2 separate regions of the Homo sapiens genome follow, and region 1 is linked to region 2. The links come from fine-mapping of genetic effects on gene expression. Tissue or cell type: whole blood. Region 2 holds a variant in brackets; the other region holds the start of a gene. All regions are shown on one strand. Distances are from middle to middle.

The links. PIP is the estimated chance that this variant, and not a neighbour inherited with it, causes the effect.
Region 1: it holds the start of NCOA1, and the variant in region 2 is fine-mapped to the expression of NCOA1 in whole blood (TOPMed, PIP above 0.99).

Annotation. Positions count from the first base shown.
Region 1 is chr2:24,486,414-24,496,959 of GRCh38, reverse strand. NCOA1 (nuclear receptor coactivator 1) reads right to left here and starts at 5,706. Exons shown (of 23, transcript NM_003743.5): 1 at 5,358-5,706. RefSeq lists silencers at 4,934-5,423, 5,578-5,736, 5,714-6,053.
Region 2 is chr2:24,455,678-24,466,223 of GRCh38, reverse strand. It overlaps LOC105374329 (a long non-coding RNA gene), which reads right to left. Exons shown (of 3, transcript XR_001739340.3): 3 at 3,070-3,150. Among named protein-coding and RNA genes, the nearest start is that of NCOA1, 30 kb to the left of the region's middle. RefSeq lists a cis regulatory region at 8,109-8,466 and an enhancer at 8,668-9,265. The variant G/A (reference allele first, on the strand shown) is at 4,741.

The sequences.
Region 1 (10,546 bases), 31 kb before region 2:
AAAACGGTCTTAATTAATTCCTAATTAATACCTTTTTACAATATTTGAGAGTCATATTTTGGTCAAAAAATAAAAATGCTCCTTTCCTCCTAGCTTACACATTACTCAAAAGCTTACAGGAATTCTTATTATTTAAAATATCTTTGTAATATTGTAACTTTAAATACAAAAAGTAACTCTCATAAAGAAACCCTATTCCCAACTACATCTGCATGGACTTAGTCTGCTCAGCTGTAATATTAAGAAGGCTGTCCTAAATGATCATTTAAGGCTCTTTAACTCTAAATGTTGTAGTTCCTGGCATCTCAAGCGTTTTCCAATCTGTTTAGGAAAACCAATCAACACACACTAAAAAGAGAATCTCTCTCAAAAGAAAGAGAGAGAAAGAGAAGTTTATTATACAGAACAGAGTACCTAATGCTAAGGGAGTGATAAAAATCAAGCTTTCTTGAAAACATACCAGCTTTGATGCTGTTTTTGAAGGTCACGAGAACATAAAGGAAATCCAATTTAAATGAAGAAAATGGAACATGTAAAAGCAAAGACGCAAGATATCTATGATTATCATAATACTTTCTTCATTGCGTAGCACTTTACAGTTTGCGAAGTATTTCTGCATATGCCATCTACAGCAAATTTTCTGGAATGGGAAATGAAAGAATCAGTTTAAATGATTTACATTTGATAAATTTGCCCACAGAAAATCTCCTCTGAAAACAATAACATAAAAAAATTTTTTTAGAAGGGAATTTCTTCAGCATTATGTGTAGGACAAATTAGAGAGGTAAATGCATGCAAGCAAACAGCTATAAACCTACAAATCACAGAATTTTAAAACAAGAAGAAATGTGAAATTAGACCAACATGCTCATTTAATGATAAAGAAACTCAGGCCCACAGAGTCAATGTGACTCCCATTACTCCATGTGCAAATGACAGGAGGACCAGATTGCAGAACCAGAAATAAAGGAAAAAATTTGAGAAATTACAAAGAAAAGAATGCGAGAATTTGGTGATGAATTCGCTAATGAAATACCTGTTAGTCATTAATGTCTATGTGCCAATCATATGCTAAACACATTTAATAATTTTAAAGATTACAATATGAGGACAAGTACGTTACTCCAATTTTAAATATAAAAACTGAAGTTTAGTGTGGTTAAACAGCTCAAGGCTACATCAACCTAAGTATCTGGAAGAGCTAGGACACCTCTGTCTGTCTGGTCAGAGTTTCTTTTCTAAAAGATGCTTTAAAATTGCCCCACAATTATAAGCTGAAAGGGCAAAAATGAAGCATCACTCTGGAAAAACTGGATAATCCAGTACAATTAGAATTCTGGTCCTGATAATGGGTGCGTTTTGCTTCCGTGCTTGCACCTATTTTTATGAGTCTGGCCTGTCTGTGCCTAATGGTCAGGTCAGGGCTACTCAGTAAAACCAAACATCCCTGCCCTCCACACACTAAAACATACTCTCGGGGAGTGGTAAGAACAAAATATATCCAAGATGAGGGTGAGTCTTCCATAACTCCTCGAGTGACTAGAGCTTCTATTTTGGCATAAGCTACTTATCTTTTAAATATGATAACCATACTAAGCTTTTCTAAAAGCCTATCACTCCAAGGAGCCTCAAAAATTCTGTGTTGCAGATGGGGTTATGGGGGAAGAAGCATGGATACAACTCACTTTACTTAAACTTATGGAATTGGACTTATATGTTGGTATCAGCGTTTTATAATAATTTCCCTTATTCAGCCATGTATCCTGCAGAAATATATAATAATCATTTCTATACATTAATCCAAATACTATAGCCCACAAACCATTTTCCAGAACTAAGCTATTAAAAAAAAAAAACAAAAAAAAAACACCTTCATCTCCTTATGAAATGAAGCAACCAACATTGGTACCTAGTTGCCACTAGGCCATTTTATGACCTCTGACACCAAATGTTGAAAGGCACAAGGTCTAACTAAAATATAAAGAGAAAAGGAAAGGTTTTAAATGACTAGACCTCATCTTCAATGTTAAGAATAGAACATGAGGCCTATCCTTAGTTGCCAATCACCAACGGCTAAACTACTGCTAATCTGGGAAAGAAGCAATTTTAAAAAGTCCTTTCCTACAGTCTAGTCTTCCCAAATGGGTAGGAAAGTTAATCTAAGATAGGGAGAAATTTATACGGTTCTGCAGCCCAGATCAGATACAGTGTTCTGACATCCACCTCCTGAAACACATGGATTTCACCCGAGCCCACACCGACCACAGCATCCAATATTTGCAAGTAATGCAAAATGGAACCCTCCAAAACATTTTTGGACCTCTGCCAGGAAAGCAGCTGATGGTCCTCTGAGAATTTCTGTTATAATCATATTTAAAAGGCAAAAACCAATGCCAAAACAATCATGAGCGTCCCGGGGATCTCCTATGCTCCATGACTTAGATTTTACTCCGTGTTGTGCGTTGTATTGACCTCCCACACCTGCCCTATAATGAAAACTATGTTAAGCCACATGGCTTAAGGCCAGCCAACTCCATAAGATATGCAACATAACATTCAAACAATGTGGAGTCCTTGGGAGACGCAGCAAAAAAGACAAACTAAAGTACGGAACAGAGGTAGTATCTAAGAGGAGGTATATGAAATTGATGACAACCAAGCAGGGAGAACTAAAACATCCTTGAAAAACAATTATAAATCACAGTCTAGTATACAGATTCCCTATACAGAATTGGGGAAAAGAATTTCAAGAAAATGCCCAATACCCTCTCTCCACCACTCCACCTTTCAGCACCTCTATACCACCCTCATCACTTACTCAACATTTAGTCCTAGTGAAGACCGCTCACTGGATTAGCAGGATCAAGAAGACATGCACAGAACATTCCATTCTGAGAACAACATCTTTAAATTATTTAGGCTTGTTTACCACCCTTCCCTATAGAGTAAAAGCATGAAATGTTGCCAGCACTTTCACAATATACACCAGTTAGCACCATAGCAACCCAATCTTCTGCCCACCAAAAGATTAACACATAAGCAGAAAACAGGAAATTCAACAAAAATTAAAGTTTGACCTTAGACTCCCTCAACAGTTAAATGTCTTAAGTAGTAGCAGTGTCTTTACATCACACCCGCTTCATGCTACCCTTACAGCTTCCTGGCATAAGCAAGTTCTTGGGATTATACAAACTGCTGCTTCTGTTTGCAGCCCAGATTTCTAGAAATGAAACCCTGGAATTGAGGGAGAAACAAAAACAAATGTTCGCAGAAAGAGGCAGGAAGAAGCATTGTCTATATAATCCTAGTTTAAGTGAAACAATCACCATTAGCTCCATCAAGCACTTTTTTTTTTTTTCCAATAAAACCACTGCAGATCTAAAATACTCTCTTGGTTTAAACCACACAAAAAGCAATTTAATAGGCACAATCCTACAGGTTTTCTGAGAGAAATAAGGAAGAGATCAAGTGTAAGCTACGTAAAATTCACGTTTTGCACCTTATAAAGCAAACTTCAATGTTGTTAAATAACCAGTAGAAAATATCTACAAAAATCAAACTAAACACCTGTTCTTATAAGCAGCAGTCCTCTATTTTCTCTCTAAACCATATATTCCCAACTCAGACCCTCTCTGTGACCCACTGTTCCCAAAGCATAGAGTCTGAAGAAGAAATATAAAACATTTCGGACATTCGTTCACAAAACCAAATTAGACCTTTCCACAAAGTACAGGAGATAAAACAGAAACACTTCCATTTTATCTAATTTATGGCAAATAGTTCAAGGAATGCCTATTTGTTAAGCTGAATCAAACCCCACTGCTACCTTTAACCCAAAACTATTTCTAGTTGAAGATCCAAGAGACCTAAGCAAATACTTTCTTTTCACATTATTCTCAACATGAAGAAATCCGACCCCCTTCCTACAACATCATAGGAGGCCCCTCTGGCCAACTTTCGTTGTTATTGTTGTTGTTTTGTTTGCTTTTTTTTTGAGACTAGCCTCCAACCAATTCCAGAAGAGGAGACAAACCTCAAACAAATTTAACCCTTGAGATCCATCCCTCAACTGTATCATATAATCTACGCTTCACGGCAGTAATGTTTTAAGCAGACACTTGATTTCTTAATCACTGAAATGTAAGCACCAGCCCTCACAAATCATCGCCACAGAGATTCCTCTTGGCATCCACAGAGGGTGCTGGGACTGCAATTCACTCAAGAACCCTTTACTCACCAACATCACACTCGACATTAAAAACTCACCGTCTCCGAAGAAAAAATGTCACCTTCTGCACAAGGACACCTGCCTGTTCAACACCTCTACAAGAAACGAGGAGGGCCAAGCATGAGAGGCTAACAGATCCTCCAGCTTAAAGTTTTCCTCCCCATGAAACTCTCCGGACACAACACCGTGGCCTGTCCTTGTCACACACACACAGGCTGTATTGTCAACCCCTCCGTCTCCCTCTAACGTCGTCAGACTGGGCAGTGTCTACCCATGGGGGTAACTGCTTTTAAATAAAATAAAAAAGCAGCCACCACAGCTGGGTAGTAAGGACTGGAGACCCTGGGTGTCCGATTTTTTCAGGTCTTTTACAAGGGACTAGAGAGCGGCCCGAATTCTGTCACTGCCCACTAACCAACCCCACCTCCCAATCGCCTCGTCAACATGTTTGCTTCCCTTCCTCGGCCCTTTCGGCTGAATCCCAGGAAGGGGACCAAACCCGGGCCGCGACAGGAACATGTCCAGTATCCATCCCATGTCTACCTCCGAAACCCCTTCTCGGGAGAAGGGGCGAGCAAGCGCGCCGGGGTCAAACCCAAGCGCCGTCGAGGGCTGCGCCGACGGAGAGGGACGCCGCGGTCGCCCCCATTTCGCGGTCCCGGCAGGCGAGATTCCGAGAGGTGAGCGGGCCGGCCAAGGTCACGGCGTCGTCGGGGCCGAGGGGCGCCCGCGCCGACTTCCGGCTCCCCCTCTCGGCGGCGGCCCGGGGCGCCCGCTCCCCACGCCGGGCAGGCGGCCGCGCAGCTCGCACCCCCTCCGCGGATGCTCGCCCTCTCCGCGCTAACTAGGGCAACTGGAAAAGAGGCGGAGAGAAGTCGCTGCTGCAGCGATTTCCCCCGGCGGGGAGCAGCCCCCAGCTGGTGCCCGTGACAGCTGCGACCTCCGCCCCCTCCAGCCGCGCCGGGCCGCGAGGGGAACTCGGGGAAGTGGGAGGAGGATGGAGCGGGAGAAAGGAGAGCAGGGGGCGGAGGGGCGCCAGCTGCTCCCCGCCCCCTAGGGCCTCCGCGGCCGCGCGGCTCGTGACAGCTGCACCCACCGGGAGGCTCCGCACCCGCAGCCCGCCACTCACCTGCCGCCGCCGCCTCTGGGCCCCGCTCACCGGCGCCGCACTCGTCCGCGACCGTGGCGGCGGCGCCGCCCCGGCCTCCGCCGCTCCTCGGGCCCGGCGCCGCGGCTCTCCGGCCCCCTCCTCCGGAGCAGGGGTCCCCCCGCAGGGGGATGCAGAGGGAACCTGACGCAGGCTCCGCTCGAGGGAGCAGCAGCGAACAGGCGGCGGAGGCCCTCAAGGCCGCGAGGCAGCCGTCGGAGGACAGAGCTCAGCAAATCGCGTCAGACTCCCGCTCGCCCGGCCTGAAGAACAGGCATTTCAGCCGCTCTCCGCGGCCGCCATGTTCTCCTCCTCGGCCGCCACCGCCGCCGCCGCCACCGCCCCCCGCTCGCGGCACCGCCCCCTTCGCGCCCCGCCCCGCCCCGCCCGTTCCCGGCCGCCCGCCTGCCCGCCCGCCGCACTTCCCCTGCCGGCTCCGGCCGCCCGGGCCGCCGCGACCCGGTGCCCGCGAGCTCCGACAGTGCGCCCGGGACAGCGCGCCCCCAGCCCGCCGGGCCTGCCGGGCCCGCCGAGCGAGGAACCGCCCCGCGCCCTCTGCCGGCCCGCCCCAGCCGGCGTCCTAACGAAGTGTGGGAAAGGAGGCCCGAACTCTTCCCCGCCCGTCTCAACTCCTCCCCGCCCCTCTCCTGCCCTCCCCTCGGGGCGTTCCTCCCACTGCTGCCGGGAAGCGGCCTCGAACACCAGGGCGCTCGCAGCTAGGCCGCCGGGCCTGCCGCCTCCCGCTGTTCTTTATCTTTCTGGGAAGGTGTCGGAGCGGCGAGAGGCCCTGCGGACGGGGCGGAGTCGGCTCCGGGCCTGTCCCTCCACTCGGGCGTTCTGTTACTTTGAGCGAGACATATCCCGCGGGCCTCGTTTTTTATTCTGTAAAATTGGGAGGTGGTTGCCTAGATGATTTCACAGGCTATTAGACAAGAGAAAAGGAAGATCGTCTGCCCCCTTCGTTTTACAGATGAAAAGATCTGCCTGACCCGTTCTGGCTCTGCAATTCCATGAATTATCTAAAATGTCTGTCATTCACAGATCTTTCCCCTCAAGGGGCCCACACCTTTCTTCTTATCTCCCTTTTCTTTTTTTTTTTTTTTTAACTTCTCTAATAGAAGTGCTACTTCCAAAAGTAGAGTGTTCTTGTCACCAGAGGAATCGAACAGCGGCTGAACAGCCTCTCTGAGCTGCGATGGCCTTATCTGGACCGCATCCCGCATTCCAAAGGCTGGCAATGCAATATATACCTATGTCTCTCCCTGGGTTGTCCTAAGCATGAATGAGTCACTCGCCGTGGAAGTGCCTTGTAAAGCATACATCTGTCCATTCCTTTCTTTTATTCTTACCCCATTTCGCACTCTTACCCTTCCTCAATCCTGTCCTGCTGCTGCTGTCTCCCGGCGTTTCCTGCTGTTTCGCTTCCTGTGTGTTCTCCCCTAAATCAATCTCTGTAAATCCTTAAGCCCTTCCCACCCTTCTCCCAACTGGGGAACCTGACAGCCTTGAAAACACCAATCTCCGTGGCAGCTCTCTGAGTCGACGGGCAGCTTCTTTCACAGGCAGGTACTACTGTATGCTTTCACCATCCTCTTCCTATCCTTGTCACGCTCATAAAGTAATCGCTAGACCACACCCCCACATGCATTCATATATTCATTCATTTATATATTCATTCCCCTGATTCTTATCGGAGACCTACTACTGGGGCCCTAGGTGCATCTCCTGAGCTCTGGCTTAGCAGTACCTCTAGCCACCCGCAGAGTCCCTATCCCCAATAATAGCTGAAAATACCCGGGCACTCATGAGTTTCGTCCCCTAATGTAGGGCCTACTTCCCAATCTAGTCCAATGCAGACTGTGTGAAAGTGCCTTGTTCTAGCCTCTGGTGCCAACAAATGAGCCACTTGTGCAAGGTACTCCTGTCTCCACTAGACTCTAGTAAGTGCTGAAGGCCAAATCTAGTGGCCACTTCAGTCCTACTGTCGTGTGGCCTTTCTACAGCACGTGATACTGCTAACTCCTCCTTTTTGAAACTCTCCTCCCTTGTCTTCAATATGAGTCTCTCTACCTGATTTCTGAACTTGCCTTCGTTTGCACTTTTCTTGGGCTGCTCCTTTTTTACGGGGCCATAAAAAATGTTGGTATCCTCAAGGTTTTATTTTTTTCCTTCCTTTCCTCTGGCTTCGGTTGACTGTTTATTTCCACAGCTTCAACTGTTAACAAAACAACTCCTGAATTTCCTTCTTCCAATCTCCCACTCTGCAGCCCGGGGTCGTAATTAACTTTAAAATATCCTCAAGACACACAGTGCTAAGATTTTGTTGAATGACAAATTATTTAGGTGTTAATTTATATTGCCATAACCATCCATGTATGCTAAAGAGAGAGTTCTTTTCTAGAATGGTACTGTTTCTTTTTTGTTGTTGTTGAAACAGAGTCTCGCTCTTGTCGCCCAGGCTGGAGTGCAGTGGCGCGATCTCAGCTCACTGCAGCCTCTGCCTCCTGGGTTCAAGTGATTCTCCTGCCTCAGCCTCCCGAGTAGCTGGGATTACAGGCACCCGCCACCACGCCCGGCTAATTTTTTGTATTTTTAGTAGAGACAGGGTTTCGCCGTGTTGGCCAGGCTGGTCTTGAACTCCTGACCTCAGGTTATCCACCAGCCTCGGCCTCCCAAAGTGCTGGGATTACAGTCATGAGCCACTGCGCCTGGTAATGTTTCTTAAATAATAACTCTTTGACTTTTTTCTCCTTCCTCTACAAGTCATAATCACTTGTCAAAGCAGTTATAACACCCTTTTATGTCTCCAATTGGTAATCTTTTCTCTGGTCATACTCAACTTCTCTCAGACTCCATCTACTTTTACTAAACAGGCCCATTTTACTAATCCACCCGAGCAACCCTAAATATAGGGCCAAAAGATTCATTAGATTTACTTCGTGACTGTACAAGTAGCCTCTCTAAAATCCATTTACCTTAGCTATTTAAAATTTATTTACTCCCAAAATACAATGCCAATCAACAAGGAAGACTAACTCCAATTAAATGAAAATGCTTTGAAGATATTTATAAATAAAAATGTAAGACAACATTTAACTCTTATAGCCCAGATAGAACTGGTTTTAGTCCAAACCCTATTGTTTCCATAAATTAATATAATCCTTTGGTGGACTAGAAACAGCCTAGTTCTACGGGCAAAATCTAGAACATACCTGTTGGATTTTCTCCAGAGCATAATAGATTTCCAGTTCTATAAAATATATGGCTAGTGTGCATGAAATTACTCCAGTTACTGAGGCAAGAATTGATTTAACTTTGACATTCTTTTTTTCAAATAGTTTTTTGTTTTATAATAATTGATACAGACTCACAAAATATTCAGTCAATAAAGAACAGCACAAAAAGTTTAAAAATAAACTTTTTCAAGCCAGAGAGAAACATAGTAAACATGTTTCCACACCTTTCTCTATATATATTTGCACATATAAATACACTATATGTAGTCAATTTTACATAAAAATAAAATCACGCCTGTAATCCCAGCACTTTGGGAGGCCGAGACAGGCGAATCACCTGAGGTCAGGAGTTCAAGACCAGCCTGGCCAACATTGTGAAACTCTGTCTCTACTCAGTGTGGTGGTGGGTGCCTGTAATCCCAGCTACTCAGGAGGCTGAGGCAGGAGAATCATTTGAACCCAGGAGGCAGAAGCTGCAGTGAGCCAAGATCGCCTCACTGCACTCCAGCCTGGGCAACAGAGTGAGACTCCATCTCAAAAAAATAAAATAAATAAAATAAAATCACATGATAAATGCTCATCAGTAATCTGGTGCCTTTTACTGTACAATGTATTTTCATCCTAATAGTTAAATACTCTTGCATTGTGTATCTGTTTAGCCATTTAATTCCTTACTAAAAATGTTTACATTGTCTGTATTTTTGTTTGTATATTTTTGTAAATCATGCTGTAATTCTAATGCATGCCTCCGTGCAGTTTAGAAATTATTTTCTTTAAATTTCTAGAAGATTAATTGTTGGCTCAAAGGGTACATGTTAATTTTTTTACTACATTATTTACCAAACTGGCCTCCAGAAAATTGTTTCAATCTGTGGTCCTAGCCATAGTGCATGAGCCTGCCACTTGCCCATAACCAGCTCTGTATTTTACCCATTTCACTTTGAATAATCTTTAATTTCTACATCTGCTTAAAGGATAGAGGTTAAGAAGACTAGGTTTAGAGTTAGGGAGACCCAGGTTTGAAATGGGTTTGTCACTTACTAGCTGTATGAAACCTGGGCCAAACCACTTCAACATCTCCAAGACTCAGTGTCCCCATCTGTAAAATAGGATGCTAGCACTTGCCTCAAAGGATTGTTGCTAAGATTAAATGAAATAATGTATGTAAAGCACTCAATACAGTATTTGACATTTAGGATTGCCCATGAGAAAGTAAATATTAGCTCACACTGAGAAGGTAAAAAATCAGCTCAACTGTTCATCAGGCTAGAAAAATAGGCACAGATAAAGTCAGCTGCAAAGTTAACAGGATGCAATGTCTCCTAAGGACGTGCTGCAGCTGTAAAGTATCATAATAACCCCCTTCTTCAAGTGACTACAGCTTTCCTACTCACTCAGAAACATTGTTCTCTAAAACCATAGACATCACAAACTTTGGTGTTGGCAATTATATCAGTAAAAATGAAGCAGCCCCAATTTACGACCCAGGTGCAGTGCTTTGGGTGGGGGGTTTCTGGACATAGCATTGTATACCTATCTTAACTTTATTGTTTCCGAACAACACAATTCTCAGTCTACTTTGCAGTCCAGGCTGGACATTGACCCCTTTACACACAGCTAAGATTTACTTTGAGTCTATCAAAATTCTGCTGTATTTAAACTGTATCTTGGCTCTGCTAAAGGTTACTATCTTCCAGCATGTGTTATTAAGTAGAAGTACGTATTACATATTCATAGAGTTCCATTTGGAGCATCTTATAAATTTCTTTTTAACAATTAAAAAATGATATTTGTGAAGTTAGCTACAGTTAAGCAAATTGAATGGTTTTTGCCTCCATGTGAAACTGGTCTGGGATTAAGTTTCTTAGAGTTTCTCTCAGTTCTAGTACCCTTCTAAACAGTTATTTGAGTGATAAAACTTATTGCCCAGGAAGC
Region 2 (10,546 bases):
TTGCAGCCTCGACCTCCCAGGCTCAGGTAATCCTCTCATCTCAGCCTCCCTAGTAGCTGAAATTGTAGGTACACAACAGCATACCCGACTAACTTTTTTTTTTTTTTGAGAGGGAGTCTCACTCTGTCATCCAGGCTGGAGTGCAGTGGCACAATCTCAGCTCACTGCAACCTTGGCTTCCTGGGTTCAAGCGATTCTTCTGCCTCAGCCTCCTGCGTAGGGGGGATTACAGGTGCATGCCACCGTGCCCAGCTAATTTTTGTATTTTTAGTAGAGATGGGGTTTCACCATGTTGGCCAGGCTGGTCTCGAACTCCTGACCTTAAGTGATCCACCTATCTTGGCCTCCCAAAGTGCTAGGATCACAGGCTTGAGCCACTGCACCCTGCCCTGACTAGTTTTTTTGTTTCTAATTTTTTGCAGAGACAGAGTCTCACTTTATTGCCCAGGCTGTTTTACTTTCTTTAATTCACATGATGAAAACAAAATGTCTCATTTATTTTTCAAATATTAAAAAATATATTCTAGTCTGAACGCAGTGGAGGCTGAGGCAGGTGGATCACTTAAGGTCAGGAGTTCGAGACCAGCCTGGCCAATATGGTGAAATTCCATCTCTATTGAAAATACAAAAGTTAGCTGGATGTGGTGGTGGACGCCTGTAATCCCAGCTACTCAGGAGGCTGAGGCAGGAGAATTGCTTGAACCGGGGAGGCAGAGGTTGCAGTGAGCTGAGATCATACCACTACACTCCAGCCTGGGCGACAGAGCAAGACTCTGTCTTAAAAAAAAATACATATATATATACACATATATATATTTGTTAAGATGGAGTTTAAAAAAACAAAAATATATATCTATATAATATATATGAAATACTTTGAAAAAACATGTTCAATCAATATTTTTCAAACTATGCCCTCCCCTGCACCTGGGAATTCTTATATTTCCCCTAAGTGTCAAGAGTGCCCCTGGTTGAGAATTACTGGATGAAGGCACAGGGAAACCTCACCTTTTGAATAATAGCAGCATCAATTCTCAGCAAGGAAGCCCTATAAACCTTCTGTTTTGAGTTTTTGCTGACCTTATTTCTTCATATTATTTCCAGAAAGAATATAGAGGTCAGTGGGCCCCCAGGAATCTTACAAACTGATATTTAGGTTCTGTGAATTCTCAGGCTCATTATTCAAGTTAAAAGGTTGTCATTCTCGGCCAGTTGCGGTGGCTTACGCCTGTAATCCCAGCACTTTGGGAGGCCAAGGCAGATGGATCATGAGGTCAGGAGATCAAGACCATCCTGGCTAACATGGTGAAACCCTGTCTCTACTAAAAATACAAAAAATTTGCCAAGCATGGTGGCGGGTGCCTGTAGTCCCAGCTACTTGGGAGGCTGAGGCAGGAGAATGGCGTGAACCTGGGAGGCGGAGCTTGCAGTGAGCCGAGATCGCGCCACTGCACTCCAGCCTGGGTGACAGAGCAAGACTCCATCTCAAAAAAAAAAAAAAAAAAAAAAAAGGTTGTCATTCTCTGTATGCCTCTATTGTAGAAATGTTGATATTTGAAGGGAGAGAATCTTAAAAATATTAAATAGCTGGTCAGCGTGGCTACTGAATAATCCGAATGAATGTTGACCATCAACAACCAATAGATGCATTATACCTGAAGATCTCTTAGCAATGGAGGAAAAGTGGAGGATTAAATCCTAGCCCTCTCCCAAACAATACTCATGAATTTTGATAAGATACCCCAGAGCAAGGTAGAATTAGCCAATGTCAAATGGTAGTGGTAGCCAGGTGTTGTGGCTCACACCTGTAATCCTAGCACTTTGGGAGGCCAAGGCGGCCAGATCATGTGAGGCCAGGAGTTTGAGACCAGCCTGGCCAAAATGGTGAAACCCCATCTCTACTAAAAATACAAAAATTAGCCAGGCAAGGTGGTGCATGCCTGTGGTCCCAGCAACTGGGGAGGCTGAGGCAGGAGAATTGCTTGAACCTAGGAGGTGGAGATGGAGGCTGCAGTGAGCCAAGATAGTAACACTGCACTGCAGCCTGGGCGACAGAGTGAGACTCTGTCTCAGAAAAAAAAAAAAAAAGGTAACAATGAAGATTAAACTATTTTTTTTTAACGTTGAAGCTAGGAAAAATCAGGCATGGTGTGGGAGAAAGCAATACCTAGGAATGAAGTGGTGAAAGGTCTTCAAAAACAAAAAAAAAAACAAGCACACCTTAAAACAAGAAGGAGGTAAAGTAGGTTTTTTTAAAAAGCATTAAAGACTATAAGGGAAGAATGGAAGAGAAAAGCAAGAAAAGGCTCAGAAGAGGCAAGACAATGGAATGAATATCTTATTAGATTAGCTCAAGTCTGGAAAAATAAGGTAGGCCTAAGAAGAATATCCAGGATGCCTTTAACGGAAAGAATAGATTGAAAGACAGAGCCAAGATACTGCCTGAACTTTCCTCCTGGACCGGCAAGTACACAGGGAACCATACTTGCTTTAGGGATCTGAGAGCCAGGAGTGGCCTCAGAGATGAGGCACAACTGGCTCATGGGTTGTAATTGATGGAGCCAAGGGAAAGATAGCACCCATGGGCAAAGCTGGGTGCATGCCACACAGAGAGTCCCACTGAAGTGTCAGGCCAAAGGATCTGGGAAACATGGCAGAAATAACCAGGTGCTGGGCAGTGGAACAGGAACTGGAGCTCCCAGGACAGGACAAGCAATTTCGAATGACAGGTGGGAGGCAGAGCCTTAGGATTTCCCAGGGCACTGGAGTATCATCACAGAGGAATTTTATGGGGCTGTTTAGGGAGCTAAGCTGGTTTTACATAAATGTAATGGAGCCAAGCTCTTAACCTCAGCAAGAAATAATAGCCATGACAACAAGAACAACAACAGCAATAATAGTAGCTACTCTATACCCACTGTGGCCCCTGGTTTGAATCTTGGTTCCATCATTCACTGGTGGCAAAATGGGTCTATTTAACAAGCTTTTGGACCTCTCCCAGCTTCAATTTTCTCCCTTTTAAAACGCAGGTTATGAGAAGGACTGTCTTCCTGGATGATTACCTCCATTCCTATGGCGTTAAGAATCTATGTGTCGGCAACTCCCAAATTCGTTTCTCCAATTCGAACCTCTCCTCTGAGTTTCAGACTCCTGCATCCAAACACAACTCAAATTTACAATGGCAAAATGACATTTTTTAGATTCTCTTGACCCTGGCCTTCCTCTCCATAAATGGCACCATCGGTTGCTCAACTTGACGTCCTTGAGTCCTCCTTCTCCTCGACTCCCAACATCCAATCCAATGAACCCTAAAATAAAATCCAAAATCCTTTCCATGGCCATGGCCAATTCTACTGAAGTCCATCTATTCTTGCTCTAGAATGAAGCTGAGACGGCCATAAAAATCCAGGAGACCCTCATAATGGTCTCTGTCTCTTCTGCATTTCTCCTGATCACTTTCTCTTCTCTGCTCCCAACTGCTGCTTCTCATCATTGTCTTTCCAGGTTTTCTTTTCTTTTCTTTTTTTAAATTTTTTTTAGAGATGAGGTCTCGCTCTGTCACTCAAGCTGGAGTGTGGAGGAGCACTCTGTCATGGCTATCATGGCTCACAGCAGCCTCAACCTCCGGGGCTCAAGGTGATGCTCCCGCCTCAGCTTCCCGAGCTGGGACCACAGGCACACACCACCACACACAGCTAAATTTTTGTATTTTTAGTAGAGACAAGGTTTCGCCATGTTGTGCAGGCTGGTCTTGAACTCCTGAGCTCAAGCCATCTGCCCACCTTGGCTTCCCAAAGCCCTGGGATTGCAGGCGTGGGCCACCACGTCCGGCCCTTTCCAGGTTTTCTAAGCCCTGTTTGGTTTTGGTTTTTCTCAGTTCTCTAAAGACTTCCTGGCATTTTGTAGCCGTTTGGGATGTGCATCACTGGTTCCAACCTCAGTCCTCCTCCTCAGAAAAGGTTCTTTTATGTTCCCACCAACCCCAATACCCAACGACATTGGGTAAGAAACTCTTTCGAATTCACTTAAGCTTTAGTAAAATGTAGTCGTGCGCAGAACTGTGTAAGGTGAATCAAAGTCGGTGAGCAGAGAAAACCAAGCACTTTAGAGACAGCGTGTGTTGGAGAAACATTCAAACCAAAAGGCATGGCTTTTTATGGAAAAGTGTTCCCCTTTTGAGCTGTGGCAGGTTGGAAGGATTTGAGATCAGGCTGCAGATGAGCCGGGAACCCTGGGGGCTGGGGTTCTGTGTACTCACTCTGCTCCTCTTTTGCAGCAGCTACCTCGCCCTGCTCTCTTCCCCTTCCTACTCACAGTAAAACCACAATCTGCAGCCAGACAGTTGGGTTATCAGCCAGCAGTGCATTTCTATGCAGTAGGGCTGTCCATAAACAGTAGAATGATAAAGAATTCATCCTCAAGCATTTTTACTCTGATCCATCTAATTTGAGGCTCATATCTAAACCAAGAATATTCAGGAGGCTGAAAAGCATTGTATGTGATAAGGATGATCTGTATTGGGGAGAACAGGGAGTGGGGATGGATGCCTAAGATTGTTAGAGCAGGTTAAGAAAAACATGCTTTTCCTTCCTTCCTTGAAGACGGAATAAGATATCAGTTTAGGAAGCTGTCTTTCATGGAGGATAATGGCTAAAACCTCATTTCAAATGCAGCTTCCACGTAGAAATCCTCGCATGCCTGCTCTTTGTCTAAGCCCTCTAGGGTAGCTGGGCCCTGTGC[G/A]TTTTGCTTATTTTAGTATCCCCACAAACTAACACAGTGAAGGCACTTAGTAGACACTCATTAAATACTTGTTATTTAAATGTAACCTCTCTGGCACCCCAATGCCCTAACTTCTTCCTGCCTTTTGCATTTTATAATTAAAAAAAAAAACTATTTCAATCCTTAGAACTTGAGTTGCCCACTCAAAATAACGTGGGCAGCCTGGCAAGACAGGGGCACAGAGGTCTCAAATGAGGTGCACAGGATACCAGAACTGTCTACCATTCTTCAGACTCAAGTTCTATTCCATACCCATGCCGCTAAAGGAAGAATGCTGGAGAAGGCATTGCTTTCCCATCCTATAGAGGAAACTGAGGCTCAGGCAGAATGAGTAACTTGCTCAGATTCTCTCAGTTTGGAGTGTCAGGTCCAGAAGTCTCAGAGTTTTGGAAGGAGCCTGAGCTGACCACAGTTCAGATCAGGGCTCTCCTACTTATCTGCCACTTAGAAATAACGTGGGCAATATTTGCAATTTCTGTGGGCCTACCTCTGTAACAAGGAATAATGATAGGATTATTCTATCCTGAGCGATGAATTAAAATGGGATGATACTTGGGCCAATCACAGTGACTCACACCTGTAATCCCAGCATTTTGGGAGGCTGAGGTGGGTGGATAGCTTGAGTCCAGGAGTTCAGAAACAACCTAGGCAACATGGCAAAAACCCGTCTCTACAAAATATACAAAAAATTAAGGCCAGGAGCTGTGGCTCACACCTGTAATTCCAGCACCTTGGGAGGCCGAGACGAATGGATCACCTGAGGTCAGGAGTTTGAGACCAGCCTAGCCAACATGGCGAAACCCTGTCTCTACTAAAAATACAAACAAAATTAGCTGGGGGTGGTGGCGCACGCCCTGTAGTCCCAGCTACTCGGGAGGCTGAGGCACGAGAATTGCTTGAACCTGTGAGGTAGAGGTTGCAGTGAGCCAAGATTGCACCGCTGCACTCCAGCCTGGGCAATAGAGTGAGACTCTGTCTCAAAAAAAAAAAAAAAAAAAAAAATTAGCTGGGCATGGTGGCACATGCCTGTAGTTCCAGCTAGTCAGAAGGCTGAGGTGGGAGGGTCGCTTGAGCCCAGGAGTTCGAGGCTGCAGTCAGCTATGATGGCACCACTGCGCTCCAGCAGAGTGAGACCCTGTCTCAAAATAAATAAATAAATAAAAATAAAAAAGTGATACAGGAAAGTGTGTGCAAATTAGATAAGCACAAACAATAGTTTCCTTCTTCTACCCCGAGTGGAAACAGCAGATACAATTTTGTGAAGATAATAAAACTTTGTTGATTATTAAAAAAAATCAATCTGAAAATAAAGATTCCATGCATAATAAACAGTATTTATAGAACTCTAATTAAAAGGGCATTTTGACAATGTTAATTCTTGTGTCTGGCATATCTATTATCTGGTACACACATGCATGCGTGTGCACACACACACCTTTCCTTCCTCATTAACCAGTTTGAACAGTCAGCCTGCAGGCGGGAGCAGACAGGGACCCAGGAAGCCAGGGTGAAGAAGCTCCTAAATCAGATGGCTTCTGAGACAGTTTTCCCCTTCCCTCAGGCTGAGATATTCTGCCATCTGTTTTGATTAAACCTTTCAAAATTCAACTTGTGTTTTTCCTTCCATTCCTTTGAAATCTCCTTTAATTCAACAGTCTTTAGGCTTTCTTCTTTCCCTTAACCACCATCTGGTGCTTCTATTTAAAAAAAAGAAAGAAAGAAAGAAAAGAAAACACATACAACAAACACTTTGAGTTCCTTGGAAGAAAGGTATAATGATGAGGATAATTTATTCCCATAGTGAGGCCCATTACTATTTCCATGGCAACAGACTGTGATGTTCTGAACATGGGACTTTGTGATCATCACAAGAACAGAATGGCAAAAGGCCCTGTTCAGACTCTTTGTCCTTATGGATTCTTTGGGTAATCACCCTTGGTGGCTCCCAGTTGCCTACAGAATTAAATGCAAAGGCCTCAGGGTGGCATTCAAGGCCCTTCTAAATCTGGTCCAGTCATGCCAGGCTCGCCGTCTGCCAATCCCAGGGCACATGGTCCTCTGGCATTCTCTACAGCTCACTGCGCCCTGGACATATCACAAGCTCTCACACCTCCATTCCTTTGCCTCCACTGTGGCCTCTCCTTAAAATGCCCTTCCTCAACTTCCCTATTTGTTTTTCTTTTTTTAACCTAATGAAACCCTCCTCATTTGAGCTTAGCTCAAATGTCACTTTCTCTGTGGGCTCTTCCATGGCTCACCCAGGCAACAGCAATAACTCTTTTCTGTGCTGCAGGCATTTTGCTCAAACAAGTATAATGACGCCTAACATTTTGTATCATAGTTATGCTCATATCTCCTTCATTCAAATTTGGATTATTTGCTCTCAATATCCATGCCTATTTCATTTTTGTCAAACACCTCGATTACTTCACATGATTTCTTAAAACATCCTTGGGGGTAGGTGGTCAGGCTTTGAATCTCCATTTTACTGTTACAGCCCCAAAGTTTTAAAAATGTCAGAGATGGGGCCGGGCGCGGTGGCTCACACCTGTAATCCCACCACTTTGGGAGGCTGAGGGGGGCAGATCACTTGAGGTCAGGAGTTCAAGACCAGCCTGGCCAACATGGTGAGACCCCGTCTCTACTAATCCAAAAATTAGCTGGGCGTGGTGGCACGTGCCTGTAATCCCAGCTACTTGGGAGGCTGAAGCAGGAGAATCTCTTGAACCCAGGAGGTGGAGGTTGCAGTAAGCCGAGATCACACCACTGCACTCCAGCCTGGGCCACAGAGCAAGACTCTGTCTCAAAAAATAAAAAAATAAAAAAAGTCACAGATGGGTAGTAAGTGACAGAGCCAGAATTCCATGATAGAACGAAAAGAATGCGGACTTTAGAGTCAGGCATTTGGGGGCTCAACTTACGTTAACTCTCTAATCTTCTATTTTTTTCATCTGCAAAATTAAGATTAAACAAAATCATATGTGTAAAGGTGCTTGGCACATCATAATATTCAAATAATATTAGTTTTCTTCTTCTTTTCCCTCAACATCTACTTTCTAGCACCATCTAGAAACATGACATTTTTTATTCCATTTTTGTTTCCCAAATTTTTATATGATGCTGAAACTCAGATGAACAAGCAAACAGATGTCTTCTGCATCTTCCAGAGAAAAGTTTTGCCTTAATTCTCTTATCTGTAATCAAGTTTAAAAGAGAAGCTACCCGACAGAGTTGTAAAACTTAAATGAAGCAACATGTGAATGCATGGAGCTCTTAGCACAGTGTTTGGCATATAGGAAGCACTCGGGATGTTTGCAATTACATTATTACCATTATCATCCTCATCATCATCATGATTATGACCATTATTTTTTGTGTGACAGAACAATAGACCCAGTGAGAATTACAAAAATTAATGAGACAGTCTCACAACTCTGTCTTCAGGCTTCTTGTTCCACAGCTTGACCCTGGACTACAGGCATCCGTGCGGTCATTGCAGGCTTTAGATTGCAGGCTTTAGATAGGGCTTCTGAGCCTTATCTTGTAATTCTTTCTGTTGGGTGGACCTAAAACAAAACCTTGCAGAGGAGAAGCTTTCAGTAAAATTTGGTCAAAAGAATGTTGGATGGTATTTCTCCAAAAATGAGCACAAATACTGAAATAAGCCTCAAAAGCCTCTGGTTCCTCATCACCAAGATACTAATATTCACCAGTGGCGTATTGGCTAGGAGAGTCATTTTCATGAACACTGTGCATGTCTGTAGATTATTGAACAGTGCTTTTGAATACTTGAGATGTTTCCATGTGTAACTTTTCTGCATAAGCTTTCTCTATAGGACACAGAATATTCCCAGATGAGGAAACAGACTCTGCTCCTGATCTCCAGGGGATAGGCAACAGGGTCTTAAGAGACCGTGTCCTGGAAAACATGTCAACCAGGTGTCAAGCACAGCCTCAGCTGGGTGATCTAGTGGTGGCATCACTTAGACATTTATTCAGCAAGTATTTATGGAGTACCTCATTCATGTCAGGCCCAGAGTTGAGCTAAGTGAAAGCATGAAATCATCTTTAGCAATCTGTACCCCCCACCCCCACCAAACCAACCACCTAGTGAGAAAGGACATTATCACCTTCAGATTAGGGATGTGTGTCTCAGAGTTTAAGAGACTTGTCCCAGTAACACCCACTTAATGACAAAGAAAGGATTTACATTTAAACCAAAGTCTCTAAGACACCAGAGCTCACATATTCTGGTGCATTCCCAGCTCCCAAGATCACTTGCAGATTCCCCAAGATGCATCACTGATGATGACACCCCAGTGACAGGTGCTGGCCCACCTGTCCCCTTTCTTGCTGTCCATCATGTCAGAGTTAGGGTTGAGGTTGGATTTGCTGGTTTCACCTCTGGCCATCGCTTACATTATGGCCTCTGGTCTGTGCCTCCTTGGAATAGGCAGGGTCCACAACACTCAGGGTACGAAGGGTCACGGGGAGGGGGTTTGTGGTGTGTCCTTTAATACCTTCCTTTTTTCTTTTCCTTTTTATTTTTTGTTTTTTTGCTACAGCTAGGGGAGTGGGGGCACTGATTCTGACTCACTACACACTCTGAGAGTATCTGACTCATCCCAGCGCTGGTGTTCTTCCAGCTCTGCTCAGTACACCGAGGTGTCCTTCCCCAGCTGCCTGGGATCGGCCAGACCCGTTCAGATGCTCTTGGTTCAGCCCTAAATGACACCAAGGTTCATTAGTAAATTAGACACATACACAAGAATCAAAAACTCCCCAGCAACCAACAGGGCTTAGGCAAGTTTTGGACTGTGTTGAAGCCAAGATTAATGTGCAATACCATTAGAATTAATGAACTGCTTTGCATCCAAGCATATAGTTCACATTTACATTGGTCATATTGATAGTTAAAAGTTTATTTTTCAGTTTAAAAACTTACAAAAGTCAACTATAAATATGAACTATTGGTAGTTGAAAGTTAAAAGTTAACCATAATTTTTTAAAAAAGTTAACTATAAGTTAAAACAAAAGAGTTCTCTTTAACCAATATTTTAGACAGCTGTATAATAAAATATCCTTCTCTACTTTGAGAATTTGTAAGAGATCACATTTATCAAAAGTTAAGAAACAAGCCTTAATTTAGCTGCTTAAATAATTATCCTTTTGGCTGTTCCCATATAGTAAATTACAGGTGTTTCTTCAAGTACATGAAGGGCTCCAAGTTCATTTAATTGTTCCTGATTGCTATTTTTATCGCTATGCAATCATTCCATTTCAAAAAAGAATTTTGTATTTGGTAGAATTTTGGCATTAAACTGTCCTTTCTTCTCATGGTCCTGTTCTGCTTCAATCTCCAGCAGAGCTCTCCCCCATTAATTTATTGTCAAGAGTGTTTTGTCGGCCGGGCGCAGTAGCTCAAGCCTGTAATCCCAGCATTTTGGGAGTCCGAGTCGGGCGGATCACAAGGTCAGGAGATTGAGACCATCCTGGCTAACATGGTGAAACCTCATCTCTGCTAAAAATACAAAAAATTAGCCGGGCGTGGTGGTGGGCACCTGTAGTCCCAGCTACTCGGGAGGCTGAGGCAGGAGAATGGCGTGAACCCGGGAGGCAGAGCTTGCAGTGAGCCGAGATCGTGCCACTGCTCTCCAGCCTGGGCGACAGAGCAAGACTCCATCTCAAAAAAAAAAAAAAAGAGTGTTTTGTCCCATTCTCTGATAACTTTGCTTACTCTAATTGTAAAACTTTTATTTCCAGCAGT